Linked DNA regions of Homo sapiens: regions 2, 3, 4 and 5 are each linked to region 1. The links come from fine-mapping of genetic effects on gene expression. A gene starts in region 1. Each other region holds a variant in brackets. All regions are shown on one strand. Distances are from middle to middle. Region 1 holds the start of SARDH (sarcosine dehydrogenase). Region 2 overlaps SARDH (sarcosine dehydrogenase). Region 3 overlaps SARDH (sarcosine dehydrogenase). Region 4 overlaps SARDH (sarcosine dehydrogenase). Region 5 overlaps SARDH (sarcosine dehydrogenase).

Region 1 (4,115 bases):
TCCGTCTCAAAAAAAAAAAAAAAAAGATGCGAAAGAGACATGTGACGTATGAACAAACATGTACAGCTACCGCATGTGCACCCAGAGGACCAGCCATCACATGCTGCCTAGTAACCTCTTCCTCTCTTTCCACCCACTTATGAATAATTGTGGAAGACTCCCTGAAAGGGGGTTTCTCCAACAATCATCAATGCTGCCTCACACTCAGGAGCAGCCCCCCGCCTGGAATCCTCTCTCTCCCAGGGTGCATCCGCACCTAACTTTCAAAATGTTCTTTTTCTTTTGCAATAAATTGCTCTATGTTGCAGCTCTTTTGCTGTGTGTCTCATGTTTAAATTCTGTTTTGTTGTTGTTGTTGTTGTTTGTTTGTTTGTTTGTTTTGAGAAAGAGTCCCACTCTGTCTTCCAGGCTGGAGTGCAGTGGCATGATCTTGGCTCACTGCAACCTCTGCCTCCTGGGTTCAAGCGATTCTCCCACCTCAGCCTCTCGAGTAGCTGGGATTATAGGTGCATGCCACCATGCCTGGCTAATTTTTGTATCTTTAGTAGAGACAGGGTTTCACCATGTTGGCCAGGCTGGTCTCGAACTCCTGACCTCAGGTGATCCGCCTGCCTCGGCCTCCCAAAGTGCTGGGATTACAGGCATGAGCCACTGTGCCCAGCCTAAATTCTTTAAACTAAGAAGTTAAGAACGGAGGTCTCACAACAGCCCTCAATGGAAGGGTGGGGTGGTGTCCTGCCCAGTGTGGACCTCCACTGCCCTTTTCTGGGATCTGCAGGAAAAGTGAAAGGGATGTGGCTGTGATCCAAGATGTGAAGTGCTGTGCCACCTACGTCAGTATGAATGACTGATATAATTATCTAAGAAAGTCAGCATCCTTTTTCAAGAGTGGACCATAGCTATGCACGTTCGTTCACTCTCATTGAACACCTATAGACACATGATAATGTCTCTACTTCACAGCGGGGGAGTCTGACACACGGAGAGGCTCCCTGAGGTGACCAGGGTCATAGGGCCTCCATGTGGCAGTGCCAGGGACTCTCTCCTGCCCCCTCTTCTGACCATCCCAGGGGGACTCAGGACCCACTGCCACACTCTGTCCCACCTGAACTGTGGGCACTGCCCAAGCCCTGACGAAGCCCAGAACCCTGTCCTAGGCACAGTGGGGGATGTGAGGGGGATCCCAGCTCTCAGGCTGGTCAGGGCTGCCCCCCATCTCCTGCCCCAGTGCCCCATCCCAAGGGAGGGAGCAGGGAGTCTGATTGCAGCGGCGTAGGGGAGTGAGGAGGTGTTGGAGCTTGTCCTCAGCCTCTCAGCCCTCAGTGTGTCAGCCCGCCTGGCTCCTGCCTGCAGAGGTGGCCCCGGACAAGGAGGCATGCCTCCTGCATGTGTCTGTACATACCTTCAGTCCTTGAAGGTCCACAGTCTTCCAGGAGCCCCCAAAAGTGGTGCCCCACCAGGGGAAAGCCAGCTTGAGTGGCACCGAGGAAGGCCCTCCAAGGCTGAACACCCCCACCCCACCACCCACCACCCACCACGGTGCCGCATGGCACAGCACACCTGGTCAGCTGTGGGCAAAAGCCTCCCTCCTCCTTCCGACTGTGCCCAAAAAGCGACAGCTGCTGGCGCCGGAGGCTGCCACGTGCCCCTTCACCACCTGCCTGGTCAGTCAGGGCTCTTCTGACTGTCAGACTGGGGGCTGGCAGCGGCCCCAGCGGGGACAGCCCAGAGCCCCTCCTGCCTGCCACCTCCCTGGAAACAGCTGCCTCCACATTAACCCACTCTCTTGCCCCCTCCAACTCTGTCTCGTACCTGAGTCAGCTTCCCAGGAGTGAGGGCTGAGGACAGCCCTGGGCTTGGGATCAGACAGATGGGTGGGGGTTTTGTCACAGGACTGGGGCCTCGAGCAACAACTTAACCTCACTGCAAAGCAGAGGACCCAGGAACGCCCTCCTCCTCCCAGGCTCAGGGGGTGGTGGGGGTCAAGCGAGGAGAGCGCCTGGCACCTTCGCCTGGTGAGGGTAGGCAGACTTGTGGGGAGGAGCGGCAGGGGGCGGGGAGGCAGCTGCCCATATGGTGAACCCTGGTCCTGCTCATGCAGCTGGATGGTCCCTGCAGCCAGAGGCAGAGGGAGATCCCAGCCAGATCTGACCAGGCCCAGCCCCGCCCACATAGGGGAGGCCCCAGCCTCGTCCCTCCCTGGGGGTGTACCTCCAAGTACCTCTTGTCAGCTGCAGTGCCCCTCGGCCCTAAGAGTGCTTGGCCCAGCAGAGGTGCCTTCACCTTCTTGCTTCCCAAGCAGTGGCCTGGCCGGAACTCCAGGCCTCCCCCGCCCCCCACCCTCGCTGCCAGCCCCATGTCTCCGCCCAGGATCTGGGCGGAGCGTACCGCCCACCACTGCGGCTTCTAGGCCAGCTTAGTTGGGGCTTCTAGGCCAGCCCTGTGGGCAGCTCCCTCTGAGGGCGGCAGAGCAGGGTTGTGAACCCCATGCCCCATTACCCGTAGGCGACCTGGCAGTCACCCTTCCGCTCCAACCCTCATTTCCTCGTCTCTGAAACAGGCGCCTCAGGGTTGCTGCAGTAGACCCAGGCACCACCTGCCTGCTGGAGCCGCCCGAGCTCCCCGCGCCCAGAAGGAGCTATGCACAGGCAGGGTGGGCAGGAAAGGTGGGGTCAGCAGCAGCTTGGGCCAGGGGCCCGTCCACTGCAGGGAGGCTCCTTTGGTGAGGTCATCTCAGCACATGCCCCAGTTTGCTCACCCCCAGGGACAGGATGCTCACTGCCTTCAGAGGCGAGTGAGAAGGCCTGGGTCAGCTTCCCAGGGACAGGGTCTCCTGGTCTGTCTGCGTCCTGCTTTCCCGAGCTCCCAGACCCCTCTGGTGTTTGGGGAGATGCCCCCAAGCCACTGGCTACTGCACAGCACGTAGCCCCCAGGGCAGGGATTCCAGCCTCCATTGACTGTTGGGGACAGCAGTGCCCAGGGAGGGGGCCACACAGCAAGCTGGTGGAGGAGGCAGACCGGATGCTGCAGCCTGACTCTGGGCTGGGGCAAGTTACCCCTTCCCAGACAGAAGTAGACACCCAGAGGAGGGGTGTGGAGGAAACCCAGAAAGAATACACCTCTGGATGCCCAAAGAATCAGAACAGGTGCTGATGGAAAGTCACATCTCCTCCTCGCGCTGGATCAAAGACGGGGCATTTCAATGGCAGTCTGTTAATATTGTAATGATGCCAGCTGCCAATACCGGAAGCGATCGTATAGTAAACTGCTGTAATTAATACCAATCAAATCATTGTGTTCTTATTCACACCGAGGATGTCCGACTGTCTTGTTGCCAGCTTGTCTATCCTCTACATTTACTGAATGCCCAATGTGTACAAAGCACTGCTGGGAAACCTATAGTGACATCTAAGACCCAGCCCCTGCCCTCGAGGGGCTCAGGGTCCACGAAGCAGACAGATCCAGGGAGAGACACGACACCACAAGGCTGGCTTCCTTCCAGCAGGGAATCCAGGAGGACCTCTTAGAGGAGGGGGCCTGGGCTCTGGGCCTGACCACGTGCTGACACCATTCTCAGTCCCTGCCTCAAAGGCAAAGGGCCCACTGGCTTAGGCCCCTGGCTGCCCAGTGGAAAGCTGGCCCCGCCAGTTTGAGGCTTACCTGGGGTGGTGTGGGGGTCCTGGGGCAGAGGACCTCCTCTTTGGATGGTGTGGCTTGCCCAGTGGCCTGAGCTAGGGCTGTGCTCACCCAACAGGGTGACGAATGAGCTCAAGAGGGCAAGGAAGGAGTGTGGCCCAAGTTCTCCCAGGAGTCCTGGACGTGCAAGTGCATGGGAGAAAAACGCAGCAGTCACCACAGCTCCAGGGCAGTGGCCGGGTAGCCCACACTTCTCCTGTCCCTGCACTCAAAGACAAGTTGCAACTGTTGCAAAACTGTTACAAGCCAAGAGGGCAGCACAATGAACCTGCACTTTGGACAAGGGGTGGTGGCTGGGGGCCGGTCCCGGCCTGTTAGCTGTCTGTTAGTATCGTAGGATTTTCATCCGGCAGGGCCTGTTAGCACCCAGCTCCGGTCTGGGAGAGGTGGAAAGGCTGTCTCCCCCCAGGGACTAGTAG
Region 2 (4,115 bases), 56 kb before region 1:
CTCTAGCAGTCCAGGGATCGTGGCAGCCTGGGTCAGATCCCAGCCTCTCGGAGAACAATCACTGCACAACAGCAGCAGTGCTCAGCTGGGAATCGCGCCCAATTCGTCTGGTGGTGAGGAGGGTCTTTGGGCAGCGGCAGGCGCCCGCTCTCGCACCCGGGGCCCGGGTCTGCAGCTCTGGCCCTTGTCCTCATCGGCCCTCACAACTGCTTTCAACCCAGAGGTTCCGCTGACTGCGCAGGCACACGCATTCCTCGCCTGCATCTGGTTGGCTGGAACCCAACTGATCGCCTATAAATACCTGGCTCAGGCCCACGCTCCAGCCCAGCGTTTCTTCACGTTGAGGGATATGTCATCAACACATTTTTAAGCCAGCACAAGATATTATTTAGGAGAATATGAAATTCTCCCTGGATTCAGAGAATCCAGAGTGTCTGGACAGACTTATGGAAAGGCCCGGAAAGAATTTTAGACATTGTGCTAGACTCCGTGCTACAGGTGGGGACACTGAGGCCCAGAGAGGCGACCCGCAGAAGGACCGGGCAGGATGGGAAGCCAGGCTTCTGGCCTGAGCTCCACCGAGCCTTGGGTAACATGGATGCTTTGGTCCCAAACCCCCCAGTGTCTGTGGCTGACTCAACTCCCATCTCCCACCTGCCTGTGAGGCCCCCTACAGGGGGAGCTGGCCGTGGCCAGTGGCTGTATCCCCACCCGTCTTGCTGGCCAGGAAATGGGGAGGGCACTGTGTCCCAGGCTGGGGCCACCTGGGAGCGCGTGGCCCTGGCCACTTTGAGGGACAGCCTCCCAGGTCAGCAAAAACTGTAACATTGACACTAAGGGCCCAGAACCTCTGCTCTCCTGGCCCACACCTCCCCAGGGCCCTCAAGAGGAGGCAGAGGTCACTGAGGACAGGATTCCTGGCCGCTCCGTCCTCCACACGCTCCTCGAGTCCCCGGCCTCATCTCATGGGATCTGGACCCACCGGCCACCCAGCAACTTCAAGCTCCTGAGGGCCACAGTCGTCCTCCAGACACACGCAGACCTGGCCGCCAGGCCCACACTGGCCACTCCAGACACACGCAGACCTGGCCGCCAGGCCCACACTGGCCACTCCAGAGAGCTGCCGGGAGGACAAGGAGGGAGAGGGACGAGAAGCCAGTGGGGCTGCGCTCAGTGCTGGGCATCAGGGTCTCTAGGTGAAGATGGTTAGCCCCAGCTCACCCCCAGTCTGTCCCCGATGGACCCCACGGACTCCAAGAACATGAGCATGGGAATGACCCCACAGAGCCGGCCACTCAGCCCAGGTGACAGTAAATCTGTGCGCTAAGGTCGTCTGTCTTCCTAAGGAGTGGGGCCCTGGGCCACTGGCTGTCGGCAGAGACGAGCTCCTGGCTGGGGCTGTGTGGGGATGGAAGCCTGCCCTCAGCACCGGGGACATCTGCCGCCCTGGTCCTGCCACGGGGGCTGGGAGGTGTCAGGATGGGGCCCACAGGGATGGGGAGAATGCTGGTGGGTAGTGGGTAGAGCAGGGGCAGCTGATGTGGGCTCCCGGCTCGTCCACAGGCCCCTGGGGTCAGTCCCAGGGCAGAGCCCCCCAACACGGGCCACACTTTTTTTCTAGCCAAGAGGTCGAGACACTCGGGGCCTTGCCCCACCCTGTCTGGTTCTTGCCAACACTCAGTTCTCTGTGGCCATCTTTGCGGGACTCTCGGTTCCATGAGAACCCGTTGGCCTGGGGTCACCCCTCACCCTGCCTAGGACCTCTTTCCAGTACAGGCTGGGCTGTGGCTGCAGGTCCCTTCCTGGGCCCCAACCTCACTCGGGGTCTGAGCCCATCGAGGGAAGGAGCCACATCTTCCATCCTGGGACCCCAATCCAGCACCCAGCAGGCTCCCAGGCAGCATGTCCAGAGTTCACTCCAGAGTCTCTCGAGCGCTAGTGAGGGAGAGGACGAGAAGCACAGCACTGGGAACGGATCGTTAAGTTTAGTAAAACACTAGTGCTTGACTGAGAGTCCCAGTGGCCCTACGTGAGCTGACGGTGCTGGGAGGTACACCATGGATAACTGCCACGGCCGGTGCGCGGCGTGTTTCCCAGCAGCTGGGCCTCCTTATGCGTGTAGCACCTCCCCGCCGCCTATTTCCTGTGTCCCCACGATCGCGCACGCCAGTTGACGCTCATGTCCCACCTCCCCTGTGTTTCCCCTCCCC[C/T]CCATCCCACACGCAGGGACCCCAGCCTAGAAAGCATTGTGCTTCTCTCCCACTCCGCCTGAGACCTAGGGTAGCACTGGGCAAGCGAGGGGCGCAGAAATACGGAAGGACAGAGAAGAACACACCACAGAGTGACCCGGGACCATGAACCGCACATACCTCCGACCTGGTGGGCCCAGCTCTACCCTCTCTCAGACCAACAGTCAGCATCTACTGGGAGGACGGTGTTCAAGGGAAGTTCCTCCCGGGGCCACTTCCAAAGCAGAGAGGTGGACCCGGTGTGAAACACATGAGCAGGGCACTGGAGACGCAGCTGAGGGCGTTCCAAGTGGTTCTCGGGGAACGTTCAAAGGAACAGGGGAACAGTCACGACATTCGGAGAATAAAGCAGTGTGTACAGACTGCATGGGATGCCCTGATTACATTTTAAAATCCACAGATAGTCACAGATGACGGAAAGAAGATGGCGGGCAACACACTCAACTGTCAACCCTGGTTTCTCTGGGATGGGATTAGAGGGGTTTTCGCTAACTCATTGGCAGGCTATGAATGTCCCCAACGGTCCTCTGAGATGCCGCTGACCACCATGTCCCAGCCAGATGAGCTTCGTGCCGCAGCTCACGAGACCTGCCCACAGACCCAGCATCCTTGTTCTGAGGGGGCAAGGGTCGTGCCCAAAGTGGGCTTGGTAGAAGTGAGGTCTGCACTCAGCCCCTGTGCTGAAACCCACGCGCAGTGATGGTTGGAAACTGCTAGAAGCGAGGTCTGCACTCAGCCCCTGTGCTGAAACCCATGCGCAGTGATGGTTGGAAACTGCTAGAAGCGAGGTCTGCACTCAGCCCCTGTGCTGAAACCCACGCGCAGTGATGGTTGGAAACTGCTAGAAGCGAGGTCTGCACTCAGCCCCTGTGCTGAAACCCACGCGCAGTGATGGTTGGAAACTGCTAGAAGCGAGGTCTGCACTCAGCCCCTGTGCTGAAACCCATGCGCAGTGATGGTTGGAAACCGAGCAATGAGCAGTATTTTATGCAGCCGTGATGTGCTTTTTACAACACCAGTGATTTTACACCAATGAGCAGGAGACTGTGGGGAGAGGCGGCCCCTGCACCCCCTGCACCCCCCACGCTGTGTTTGGCCTGGCCTGTTCCTCTGGGGGATGTCATCCCGGAAGCAGAGCCTTTGGGTCAGCTCAGCAAGCACCTGGCCTGGCCTGGCTCCTAGGCCACACAGGTAGAGGCTGACCCAGGCAGCCACTGCCTAGGCTTGGGGAGGCTGCCAGGGCCAGGAAAGGGCCAGCCCCAGGAGAGGGGAGGCAGCTGGAGCCGCCTGTCTGAGAACAAGTCCCAGCAGCTTGCTGGAGTGGCCGTGCGGGTGGGGGCAAGGCTGCTGGGCCTCAAATGGGAGGGGACGTGTTCCCACCTGGTCGTCTCCCCGTCCTGTAGCCAAACCAGACAGAAGCAGCACCTATGCCAAGCCTCAGCAAGGTGGGAGAACCCGCAGCCCCCCTCCCCTTCTGCAAACCAGAACCCAGCTGCAGACAAAGCTGGATGCTGCGTGGACCCCGGCCTGCTGGAGCTGGAGTCGGGCCATCTGAAGGCCGTGTGGCCTGGATCCAGCTGTGCTGCTCTCTCTGAGTGCCCACCCTCTCTGGTCCCAGCAGGCAGCTTTGCACCACAGAGGCAGGAAGCAAGCTAGACACAGCCGGCCCTGCTTCCTGCCCCTGTGCAGCCTCTGGAGAGGGGAGGTGAGAGCAGAGCCGCTGGGATCTCCCTAGTTTCTGGCCGCCTCCTCCCTGACAGTCATCGCCAGATTGTTTATCTGCTAACAGAACCCAGATTTGTCCCCCAGGACCTCCAGTCCCTCTGCAGGCCAGGACCTCGCTCCTCCCCAACCTTCCTTAGCATT
Region 3 (4,115 bases), 47 kb before region 1:
CGTGCCTCAGACATACGCACTGGCCTGCCACGGGGCCTTTGCACCTGCTGTTACCACTGCTGGGAGCAGTTCCCCCAGAACACCAAGGCTGGGTCACTCGTTTCCTGCAGGGTTCTGCCCAAATGTCTCCTTAATGCATGTTGGTTTCTATGAGCAGCCTCAAGTCAAACACTTGGCAGAAGCCAGTTAGTGTTAAAGCACTCGACCCTCTCCGATTCTATCCCTTCCTCAGCAAGCACGCGTCTACCGTGTGCCCCTGAGCACCACAGTGCATATGCTTGGACGGACAGCAACAGCTCGGTCCCTTGCAGCCTGAGAGGGGAGCAACTGGCCTAGGACTCAGCGTGGGGTGCCAGGGAAAGCGGACCCCATGGCAGAGTCTGGGCACTCCAGCCAGAGGTCTCGGCAGAATCCCAGGCTGACAGGATATCACCAGGACACAGCCCTGCTACGTCAAGTGCTCACCTCGGCGACCTTCAGGCTGGAGACTCATCTCCCCCCCACCCCTCCCTGCCTCTCCTCCTCTCCTTTCCCATCCTCTCCCCGAAGCTGCCACCATCATTTTCCAGAGACAGATCACCCCTTTGATATCCTCCATGTCCCCAGAAGCAGTGCCCTCATCTCGTGCCTCTTCCTCCTGCCCAGTCCAGCAGAGCCACCCTGTCCAGCCCCAAGGCAGATGTGGCGGCAGGAAGCACACCGAGATGAGTGTCCTGGCCCCTTAGCCTGGTGGGGGAGGGTCACCAATGGAAGGCCTAGACTAGGCCGTTTTCTCACAGAGGATTTTTAACTCTTGAAAAAGGGTGGCGGTGAGCGTGTGCAGGCTTCTGAGCACAAGGGGGACGCATCCCCATCAGCCCTGGCACTGACCAGCTGTGTGACCTTGGGCAAATGTCTCAACCTCTCTGTTTCTCAGTTTCTGCATCAGTAAAAATAAGAACAATTATGACCACCTCAAAGGGCTACCGTGGGGATGGGAGATGTTGGCTCAGGCTTGGCAAGTCACAGGTGCTCCACTGGTGGCTGCTAACATGATGTCCTTCCTCCCTGTCCCCCACCCCCAGTCCCTTCTCCCAGCCTCCGAAGCACAGTCAGAGGGGTCTTTCCAAGGTGCACACCTGCTCAGCCGTCCTTTTGCCCAAGACTCTTCTGTGGCTGTGTGCATGAGCCAGCAGCCGAGGGTCTTCCCCGGTCCTGGTTTCTCATGGGTGGGGAACACAGCCCGGCAGGTGTTTATAGAAGGAATGCACGCATGGATAAGCCTTAACCTTGTCATGGAGGGTGTTTCCGGAGGAGCCAGGGACCCCTCGGTATAGGATATTATTCTGCCCATGTGATCAAGGTGGCGTACAGAAATTACCAGGTAGCAGGGCGAAATCTGGCCTGGTTCTGCCCACTTTGGGATGGTGGACGGTAATTCCTAGACTGCACTGGTGACTCAGAGACTGCCCTCCCCTCTGGGATCCTGGGGTCCTCAGTGACTGAACAGCTGTAAATTTCAGTCTGACTCGTGTTACCGGCTTATCTGCATTCCAGTGCTTTGAAGATATTTATTCAGAATGGCATCTCTGGTTTACCAGAGCGCTTAACTATTCAGAATGGCCCATTCTGGACAAGCTGTTCTGCCCAAGGGCCTGTTGGAGGACCTGGGTCCAGGCAGCAGGTGCACCCAGGGGCGGGCTCCCAGTCCTCTCTCACCTGGCTGGGCCCTGGATACTGATCATACCCAGGTCCTCGGAGCTGTCGATGAGCTGGCACTGGGACTTCTGGTCCTGCAGCACGGTGGTGATGTGGGACCAGTTGTGCTGGGCCACGGCCCCGCCCATGGCCAGGTAGTAACCGTCCCCTGGAAGAGAGGCACCTGGACTTAGAGCAGGATTTCAGGGCCTGGGAGGTGGGGACAGAGAGGGTGGCCCAAGGGTCTCCCGGCTGAGAAAACAAATGCCCTCTCAGGGGCCTGTGCCTTCACAGTGCCCAGGAACCGTATCTGTCCCTCCCTGGGTCCCCCAGGGCCACGCCTTGCAGAGTATCCTCTGAGCCATGGGGGTTAGGAGAAGGACCTGCTTCTCAACCCCTACCACCCACCCCTCTGCAGACACCTCAAAGGGATGCCCCTACCCTGGGAGGACGGTGTCTTGGGAACACACAGGCCTAGGCCAGCCTGGCCCAGATGCAGTTCTGCGGCTCACCGGCCTTGCTTCTCACCTCTCTGAGCCCCCATTTTCTCATCTGTAAAAGGGGCAGACCCACAACATCTGGCCCCACAGGGCTATTGGAAGCACCCTTGGACGAGAGACCTCTCAGGGCCCCAGGCAGGCCCCAGCCAGGCTGCTCCCTCTCTTCTTCCTCTTGACACCATAAGCACAACAGAGAATGAAGGCAAAGAGACAAGCCAGTCCTCAAGGGGTTCCCCGACACCTGAACTGGGGCCGTTTCTGGATGGAATCCTCAG[C/T]TCTATTCAGACAGACACCCTACCTCACCTCCCCCAACACACACACACACACACACACACACACACACACACACACACACACGGCCACTCTCAGGCCCCTGGCTCCTGAGTGGCCCCCCCAGTCTGCAGCCATCCCAGGCCTCTCCCAGGAGGGCATGGGAGCTACTGAGGCCAACTGGTGCCCAGGGAGATGGCAGCTGATGGGCCTGGCCTCCTGTGGCCCTGACCATCCATGATCAACTTCCCTGAAAACAAGACGCCAGTCCTGAGGCCAGAGGTCAGTCAGCCCAGGTCCAGGCCTGGCCTGCAAAGCTGACATGGCAGAGAGCAGTGAGAAGGCAGGGTGGCCGGGGACTTGCACCATCGGCAGTGGGTGTGGGGGGAGCTGTGGGCTGTGCAGCTGATTTTGTGCTTTTCAGTATCATTGGAATGGTTCCCAGGAGCATGTATCCTTTTGTAATCTTACAAAAAGATCAATAAAGACCATTTAAAATTACTTTTGAGATTGACAGCTGCTTTGTATGCCACCTTGATCACATTGTGTAAATCATCACATTCTCTCGGCTCCGTGGTGATCTGATGCAGCATGGGTAGGTAGCGCACGTATTCAACACGCGCATATTTAATGCCCATGCATATTCATAACTCAAACAGTGCAGTTTTGAAGCCTGAAAGTAAAGCAAAGCCCACATGGTGGTTTTCTCCTGTTGAGTGGTGTCCCCAGGACCCGCAGAGCCCTGGGGGATGTGACTCACTGTGCTAACTCCACACCCACCAAGTGCAAACCTTCCCAGCAACCAGCACCGCCGATCCCCAGCCCTCAGCTCTAGGAATCCACCAGAATCCTCTGGAAAGCTAATTGTGCACCACTGGGAGATGGCTCAGCGTTGAAAGCACTTTCCTGACAGCTTCCCCTTATGAGGGGGGACGAGCAAGGTCCTCATTCCCCAGCCAGGGAAACTGAGGCTCAGGGAGGCTGCTCCCCAGCCCTCCCAGCACCCCCAGACTCTGACTCAATTCTCCATCGCAGCCCCGGGAGGCGCGTCTTCCTCACTCCATTCCACCAATGGGGGAAACTGAGGCTCGGGGGGGCAGGTCGCTGAGCCAGGTAGTGGCAGGACCTGGCCAGGATTTTTGGTGACCTGTGTCCTCATTTTGGCCCCTCTACTGTCTCCCTAGCTAGACTCACTAAGTCTGCGGCTATGGGCTGTGCCTGGGCCGCCCCTCTACTGGGGGCTGATGCCTAGCTCCTTACAGGCAACACTCCTCTCAGCTCAGAGATGCCATTTCAGCTGAATGACCCAGAGACGACCAGCGATGGGCAGGTCACACTGGTTCTCACCTCTACACCCTTGTAGCCAGTGGCTCCTCCCCATCCTTCCAAGCTCAGGCCGGCCCTCTCCTCCAGGAAGCCTTGCTCATCCCGGCTCGGCGGCTTCACATGGCCTTCCCTAACACCTCGCTCTTTCCCATCCCCTTGCATGTCCCCCTCCAGGTGTTACGGGGCCCTTCCTGCCCCCGTCTGGACATACAGCCCACTGTGGGGTCCCTGAAGCCCCACCGGCCTCCTTCACCTCCTCCCGACCCTGGCTACCTGGTGCTTCCACACAGTGCAGGCTCACGTGATGACTGTTGAGGGAACGAGCGAAGGAACGAGCTCATG
Region 4 (4,082 bases), 33 kb before region 1:
CAGCACCACTTCCGCTCAGGCCTGGCTGCTGGCAAAATCTCGGCACAGAGGGAGGAGGGGGAGAGGAAAACGCATGATTCCTCCTCAAAATGGAGTCAGCCGAAAAAAGCGTGAATGCAGAGCCCGAAGAGACTCCTGGGGGAGGGGAGCCCCTGCAGGGCCAGCCGAGGGCCGGCGCAATGGCTTATCTGAGGGACAGGCAGAAGGACGGACCCCCACGGTGGACCCCAGCTACGCACCGTGTCGTGGTGGGGCGGGAAGGCGAAGGTGTACTCGTCTGCCAGCAGCCTGCGGTAGGCGTAGTCCTCGTGCGCGCGGCTCCCGTAAGCCCCGTAGTAGTCGTACTCGAGGACCTGGGAAGAAAAGACGTGGTCCTCAGCCTGCCTCTTTGGCCCCTCCCCGCTTCCCTCCCCAGAGCGGGGTCCCGCTGAGGCTGTGATGGGGTCAGGCCTGGCCCTGCCCTCGGAGAGCCCTGCACTGAGTGCCCGTGTGTTGTGGACGCGGGCAGGGGGCCCCCATGAGGTCCAGGCAAAACAGAGGCACAAAGGAGGCCGCAGGGTTGCCTGGTGGGTCTGAGAGCCCAGCCAGGGCCCAGGAGGCTGGAGGAGGAGCTGGATGCACCCAAGGTGGGGAACGACAGGGAGAGGTGGTTACCCAGGACCTCAGCCAGGGCTGCTCCCTGGAGCCACGGCAATCCCAGGCCCAGCTCCTGCTCTGGGCCAGCCCCTGCGGGAAGCGTCTTACACTCCTACCAGGTGTGCCCCTTTCTACAGATGAGGAAAGTGAGGCGCAGAGAAGTTATATCTCGCCCAAGGGCACAGACAAGTCCTGGACCTGGCAGTGGCACGAAGCCAGGCAGGTGCGTGGGCTCCAGAGTCCAGCTTTTCTGCCACTGCCTTGGCCTCCCTGGGATCTGCCCCCATCAGACACCCCACAGCCCCACAGCCCCATGCCCCTCCCTGGCCGCTGCTCCTGCAGACAACCCCCCACCCCGCCACCTGCCCTCCTAACTGCCGACACGGCACAGCTGTGAATGCAGGTGTGGGCAATTCTTAACCTCCCAGGGCTGCCAGCCCCGTCCGCCCAAGCCTCACCTCCTCTTCACACACAAGTGGGAGCCAGTGTGAGGTTGTAAGGGAGTCAGGCTTTGCTGGCATCTCTGCATGGAGTACCCCCCTCCCCAGCAGGGACATCCCACCCACTGCAGCCCTGCCAAGGTGTCCTGGACACCCAGGCTGGCTCCCGGGTGGGGGTGCAAAATCCGCCCATCTTGGGACCTGGGGTGTGTTCCTGACTCTCCTCTCCTCGCCCAGGGACAGGGGAGAGGGGCTTCCAGGGCCAGATCTGACTGGAACACAGTGGGTTGCACTTCAAGACAGGGTCTGCCCAGACCCCTCCTCCCCGCAGGGTTCATGAGGACGGCATGTCCCTAGGGGCCAGCAGGAGAAGAGACGATGACCTGCAAGGCTCTGACCCCAGAGCCGTGGCCCCGTTAGCCAGCTCTGGCTCTCATCTCCCCTCCCGATGCCCTGGAGCTCTGGAGCCTGGCCTGGGCTGTGGGTTGCCATGGGGATGGAAGGTGGGTGCACCAGAGGGGACTGGTGAGACGCAGCCCCGGGAAGGGGATTTCGATTTCTGTAAATCTGGATCAAATGCTACCCCTCAGCTGGCCTTAAGGCCTCGCGTCCCCTGCTCCCGAGGGTCTGGGTCCCAGGTTTCACAGCAGGACTGCCTTTGTTCCTCTCACTGAGGACCCAGGTCCCTGGGAGTCCCCAGAGGACGCCCAGAGTCCAGGCCACTGTGAAACCTCCACTGGGAAACTGAGCACCCTGGGTGCATCAACCTGCCCAGTGCCTGCCCTCCTACGGACATAAACCAACAGTCGGAGTGGCCAAAAATAGATGCACAGAATTAGGAGACGCTCCATTCCTCCTGCAACCTGGGGGAGTCTTCTTGCTGTCTCCCCACCGCAGGACACCCCTTCTGCTCTGCCTACAGCCCTTCCCACTTAGGCCATGGAAGGCCTGGCCACAGCGGACGGGTAGTGGGGAGGACGAGGAGTGGGAATTGCGTGAACGGCACAAAGAATGCACTGAGCCTTGGGGGCAGGTCGGCAGGGCTCGGCTTCCCGTGTGCAGAATAACTGATCACGACAGTGGAACCACCTGGGGAGGCGGGGCACACGGAGGGGCAAGGACGGGGCACG[T/C]GGAGGGGCAAGGGGGTTGTCAGGGCAGGGCCTCCCAGCAGCACAGCCCAGCAGGCACTACTCACCGGAGCTGGGCCTCGGGGATGAAACCATCCCGGTCGCTCCCAGCCATGCCGCTCCTGGAACACGCAGCCTTGTCCAAGGAGTTCCTGAGCAGGAGTGGGGAACAGGCATCTGTCACGCATGGCCTGATACCCCTGCGCAGGGCAGAGAGCCACATCCGCCACTTTACACCCAAGGGTGCGGAGAGCAAGGAGGCCCTGACTCTTGGAACCAGGCCTCCAGCCCAGTGTTTGCAGCTACCCTCACTGCCTCACCCTGAGAACCCCTATGTGTAGAATTACCACCTGCCCCATCTGCCCTCACCCTGAGAACCCCCATCTATAGAATTACCACCTGCCCCATCTGCCCTCACCCTGAGAACCCCCATCTATAGAATTACCACCTGCCCCATCTGCCCTCACCCTGAGAACCCCCATCTATAGAATTAATTACCACCTGCCCCATCTGCCCTCACCCTGAGAACCCCCATCTATAGAATTAATTACCACCTGCCCCATCTGCCCTCACCCTGAGAACCCCCATCTATAGAATTACCACCTGCCCTGATCTGCTCTTGCCCCAGGAATCCCATCTATAGACTTACCGCCTGCCCCATCTGCCCTCACCCTGAGAACCCCATCTGTAGAATTATCACCTTCCCCTATCTGCCCTCATCCTGAGAACCCCCAGCTACAGAATAGCACCTGCCCCATCTGCCCTGGCCCCGATAACCATCATCTGTAGAATTACCACCTGCCCTGATCTGCCTTGGCCCTGAGAACCCCCATCTGTAGAATTACCATCTGCTATGGACGGAATCACATCCCCACATAAATTCGTATGTCAAAGCCCTGACCCTGACGTGACTCTATTTGGAGATGGGATCTTTAGGTTAAATGAGGTCATCAGGGTGGGTCCTAATCCCATACGGCTGGAGCCCTTATAGGAGGAGGAAGCGACGCCAGGGCCCTCTCCCCGCTGCATGAGGACAGTGAGAAGGTGGCCGACTACAAGCCAGGAGAGCCCTCTCCAGGAACCCATCGTCTGACACCTTGATCTTGGACCTCCCAGTCTCCAGAAATGTGGGGAAAAAAAAGTTCTGCTGAAACCTCTCCACTTGTGGCCTTTTGCTGTGGCTGCCCTAGCAGAAAGATGCACCATACGACCCAGCAATTCCACTCCCAAGTATGCACAAGAGAACTGAGAGCGGGGTTGTAAACAAATTCCGTTCACGCATGTTCACTGAGCTCTATGCGCAACCACTAACCAGGGGAGAGAACCCCCGTGGCCCTCAGCTGATGAGTGGATCAACAAAGCATGGTCTGCATACACCATGGAATATTATTCAGCCATAAAAAGCAACGAAATTTGGACACATTTTATCACAGGATGAACCTTGAAAACATGCTACAGGAATGAAGCCAGACACAAAAGGTCATGTATTGGATGATTCCAGCATATGAAGTGACCTGAACAGGCAAATCCATAGAGACCGAAACAGCTTAGTGGTTGCCAAGGCTGGTGGGAGGAGATGAGGAAGGGCTGTTTACTGGGGATGGTGTTTCCCTGTGGGGTGATGAGAATGTTCTGGAACTGGGTAATGGGAACGGTTGCACAGCACTGCAAAGGCACTTAATGCCACTGAATTGTACACTTTAGAGCAGTTAAAATAGCTCATTTTAAGATCTGCCTACTTAATCACAACAACGAATGTAATGAACACACTAGAGAAACAGAGTGGGAGGTTTCTTTAAAAATAAATTTGGTTTGGGAAAAAAAAGAAAACCCACTCTCGGGTTTGGAAGGGCCCTACCCAGGGGCCACCCCCTCTGAC
Region 5 (4,115 bases), 71 kb before region 1:
CAATGAGCAGGTTTCCCTATCTTAGGCAGAAACCTCCGTTACCCCACTTGGGTGCTAGAAAATGTTTAACAACCAGCTCTGGGGTGAGGTGGGTGTGACTGTAGCATTTGCCCATTTCCATGGTGCAAATGCTCTGGACAGCCCTGATGGAGGGGGCAGGAGACGTGCACCGGCCGCTCTGGGTGCATCGACTGGTTCCCCGGCTGCCTGTCTGGATGCCGTTTAACCTCGGAACCTCGGCTTCCCTGGTCACGTTGGTTATGGACCCATCCCTGACTCCGGAGAAAGGCGAGCATTACTGTTCTTTGAAGAAATGGCAAAGGAGCCTCCACTCCCCAGCCCACCCTGGCATGGAGCCCATAAACTCCGGTTTGGCTGGGCCCCAGGGCTGTGGCCCCCAGGACCATGGCCCCAGGGCTGTGTCAGGAGGCCCTGCCCACCGTGGGAGCCATGCCATCACAATCCCCACATATTAAGACTCACTCTGTGCAGTGGCCTGTATGACAGCCCTGCATGGTAGGTGAGTGTCCACATTTTATAAATGAGGAAACTGAGGCTCCAAGAGAGGATCCTTATCCAAGGTCACAAAGCAAGTAAAAGGCAGATCCAAAGGCTAGTGGCATCAAGTGTGTCCCCAGCCTCCCAGCTCCACCGCCGGACTCAGCCCCATGGGCTGCCACTTCCCCACAGCTCCACAGGACCATGGTCTTGCCCGAGGCCTGGCGGTGTCCCCTCCCCATTGGGCCTGCGAGCTGGGCCTGCGCATGTTCTGCAGCTCTTGCTAAGGCTGCTCCGTCTCCAGCCTACCCCTCCTCATGGCTTCTCCCAAGTGCTCGCTCCCTCCCCAATTCCCTCTACGTGTCCATCAGGGGCTCAGGCTGGAAGGCTCTGGAGCCAGGCCAGCACCTCCCGGCCTCACTTAGGGCTTAGGCCAAACGTCAGATCGGCTCCCATGGAGAGACACGACCCTCCTCACCGGCACCTCTACTTGCAGTGCCAGAAAGATGGGAAAAGGAGGTGGAGGTAGAGACCACCCCTTCCCCTTCTGGGGAGGCTGCCCACCCCCTGCCCCACCACCCCTGGCCACCCAGAGCTGTCCTGGGACTTGCTCCTGGGGGCAGTGCCTGCTCTTTCCAGCCTGTTCCTGCCTCCTGCAGCCAGGGGTCAGGGTCACCTGGAGGGGGTGGGGTTGCCTGGGGTCAGGGGTGTCGGGGGTGAGGAAAGAGAGGATAGGAACATGGGTCTCTGAGTCTCTAGTCGGTCACCCTGGGGGCCACCCCTGCACCCCAGGCAAAGGGTGGGCTGTGGGTGGCCTGAGGTTTGGGTCTCTGGTGTGAGGAGCTGGAAGGTATCAGCCTGGCTGGCTGGCACCTCCTTCTAACCAAAAAAAGCCTGGAATCACCAAAGTCGGATTCTTCCAGAAAGAAAACAGAGAGCAGCTTTGGCTCTGCCCAGGCACAGCTGGGGAGTCCTCCACCTGCTGAGGCCTCTTCCTCCCCCTTCTCCTTCTCCCTCCCTCCTCCCTCTCCCTCCTCCTCCTCCTTCCTCTCTCCCCTTTTTCCTTCCCCCTCCTTCTCCTCCTTCCTTCCTCCCCCTCTTCCCTCCTCCCTCCTTTCTCTTCCCTCCTCCTCTTCTGGACCACACCCGTGCCTCCTCCCTATGCCCGGCACACTCAGGGTGCAGTGCAGGGAGCTGGTTTGGAGCTGGTGAGGGATCGGCATCTGCCTTAGCAGGGCCAGAGAAGGGGACTCACCGGCCCACCGCTGGGGTCATGGATGTAACCGTAGGCGATGGTCTTGTCGATGGCGAACCCAAAGTCAGCCCTCCGGACATGGCCCACCACTTGGCCGTTCCTCCAGATGGCCTCCAGGCCAAACATGGGTACTTTGCTGGAAGAAGCAGTAGAGAAAGCTGGGGCCCCAGAAACCGCAGGGTGGGGACGCGTCCACAGCGGCCTGGAGGAGAATGGGGGGCTGCATGATGCACACCCAACCGTGGCTCCA[G/C]GCAGATAGGGCTGGCCTACTAGGACTACGCTGGTCCCCAGAGCCAGCCCAGCACCTGGCCTGGACAGCAGGGCTCGGGCTTCGAGTGAGTAAAAGGGATGAATAGAAAACATCAAAACCAGGAGTGGACTTTGCTGTTTCCAGAAGCGAGCCCCGTATATTTGGGAGGGCCCCTGCTTCCGATTTCCTTCCATTGTTGTTCAACTCTGGTTTTTTTTTTTTTTTTTTTTTTGGTGCAGTGGCACAATCTAGACTCACTACAACCTCCGCCTCCCAGGTTCAAACGATTCTCCTGCCTCAGCCTCCGGAGTAGCTGGGATTACAGGCACCCACCACCATGCCCGGCTAATTTTGTATTTTTAATAGAGATGGGGTTTCATCATGTTGGCCAGGCTGGTCTCGAACTCCTGACCTCAAGTGATCTGCCCACCTCAGCCTCCCAAAGTGCTGGGATTACAGACTTGAGCCACTGCGCCCGGCCAGGTTCATTTTTTTTATAGTACAATACATACTTTATTCAAAGGACTTTACTACATGTAATACATGAATGCTCACTGTAAAAGTTTTAAAGATTAAAAGCAGGAAGACAAAAAAAAAAAAGTAAGCTAAAATCAAAGAAAGGCCAGCACCCAGGGCTAACTGGTAACATTTTGTTGCCAGTCTGCAGACTTCTCCCTGTGCAATGGGTTATCACGGCGGCAGCTATGCAAAGGGGTCCCTGAATGGAAGGGCTGGGGTGATGTTGAGGGCACCTCCTGCATCCTCAGCCTGGAGTCACTGTTTGGGTCCCACCTGTCCATCAGATTAGGACGAGGCTGGAAGGAGGTTTCGTAAACATCTTTGGTGTCACCCTAGTTTCTGTTCTCCACGTGAGGACGCTGAGGCCCCAACTGCCCGGAGTCCCAGAGCAGTGTGGCAGGGCTGTTCTCTGTGACTCCACTGCCAGCATCTTCTCTGCGCCTGTCCTGGAACTGCAACAGTCCAGAGCCGCGGCGCAGGGCAGCTATTATGCAGCCTGACAGGAAACCCCTGAGCAGAGCGCACTGGGTCACAGGGGCCGTCCGAGGCCCTCCTAAACCCAGACATCAGGCTGCAGGTACTTCATGGAGGGCCAGAAGGTCGGGGTCAGGCAAGCAGAAAGGACCCATGGATGCTGACCTGTCTGCAAGGGGCCCCCTCTCCAGGAGCTGAGCTGATTCAGGGAGCTGGACAGGCTGTCACACAAGAGACAGAGCCTGACAGGCACCCAGGGAGAAGCCACAGGATGACGACGACACGGCTCCACTCACCGTCCCTCTCCCTCCCTCTCCCTCCCTCTCCCTCCCTCTCCCCCACCCTCCCTCTCCCTCTCCCTCATTCTCCCTCACCCTCCCTCTCCCTCACCCTCATTCTCCCTCAGCCTCCCTCTCCCTCTCCCTTCACCCTCCCTCTCCCTCTCCCTTCACCCTCCCTCTCCCTTACCCTCCCTCTCCCTCGCCCTCCCTCTCCCCTCGCCCTCCCTCTCCCCTCACCCTCACCCTCCCTCTCCCTCACCCTCCCTCTCCCTCACCCTCCCTCTCCCTCACCCTCCCTCTCCCCTCACCCTCCCTCTCCCTCACCCTCCCTCTCCCTCACCCTCCCTCTCCCCTTACCCTCCCCCTCCCTCTCCCTCACCTTCCCTCTCCCCTACCCTCCCTCTCCCTCACCCTCCCTCTCCCCTCACCCTCCCTCTCCCTCACCCTCCCTCTCCCTCACCCTCCCTCTCCCCTTACCCTCCCCCTCCCTCTCCCTCACCTTCCCTCTCCCCTACCCTCCCTCTCCCTCACCCTCCCTCTCCCTCACCCTCCATCTCCCCTCACCCTCCCTCTCCCCTCACCCTCCCTCTCCCTCACCCTCCATCTCCCCTCACCCTCCCTCTCCCTCACCCTCCCTCTCCCTCACCCTCCCTCTCTCTCTCCTTCCCTCTCCCTTACCCTCCCTCTCCCTCACCTTCCCTCTCCCTCACCTTCCCTCTCCCTCACCCTCCATCTCCCTCACCCTCCCTCTCCCCTTACCCTCCCTCTCCCTCACCTTCCCTCTCCCTTACCCTCCCTCTCCCTCACCCTCCATCTCCCCTCACCCTCCCTCTCCCTC

The links. PIP is the estimated chance that this variant, and not a neighbour inherited with it, causes the effect.
Region 2: its variant is fine-mapped to the expression of SARDH in whole blood (TOPMed, PIP above 0.99).
Region 3: its variant is fine-mapped to the expression of SARDH in whole blood (INTERVAL, PIP 0.94).
Region 4: its variant is fine-mapped to the expression of SARDH in whole blood (INTERVAL, PIP above 0.99).
Region 5: its variant is fine-mapped to the expression of SARDH in whole blood (INTERVAL, PIP above 0.99).

What each region holds. Positions count from the first base shown.
Region 1 is chr9:133,736,033-133,740,147 of GRCh38, forward strand. SARDH (sarcosine dehydrogenase) reads right to left here and starts at 2,320. Exons shown (of 21, transcript NM_001134707.2): 1 at 2,222-2,320.
Region 2 is chr9:133,679,707-133,683,821 of GRCh38, forward strand. The region is part of intron 17 of SARDH (sarcosine dehydrogenase); the gene reads right to left. Among named protein-coding and RNA genes, the nearest start is that of DBH-AS1, 24 kb to the left of the region's middle. The variant C/T (reference allele first, on the strand shown) is at 2,211.
Region 3 is chr9:133,688,682-133,692,796 of GRCh38, forward strand. It overlaps SARDH (sarcosine dehydrogenase), which reads right to left. Exons shown (of 21, transcript NM_001134707.2): 16 at 1,699-1,846. Among named protein-coding and RNA genes, the nearest start is that of DBH-AS1, 33 kb to the left of the region's middle. The variant C/T (reference allele first, on the strand shown) is at 2,453.
Region 4 is chr9:133,702,677-133,706,758 of GRCh38, forward strand. It overlaps SARDH (sarcosine dehydrogenase), which reads right to left. Exons shown (of 21, transcript NM_001134707.2): 12 at 2,272-2,355; 13 at 240-353. Among named protein-coding and RNA genes, the nearest start is that of SARDH, 34 kb to the right of the region's middle. The variant T/C (reference allele first, on the strand shown) is at 2,207.
Region 5 is chr9:133,664,982-133,669,096 of GRCh38, forward strand. SARDH (sarcosine dehydrogenase) reads right to left here. Exons shown (of 21, transcript NM_001134707.2): 20 at 1,754-1,889. Among named protein-coding and RNA genes, the nearest start is that of DBH-AS1, 9.6 kb to the left of the region's middle. The variant G/C (reference allele first, on the strand shown) is at 2,004.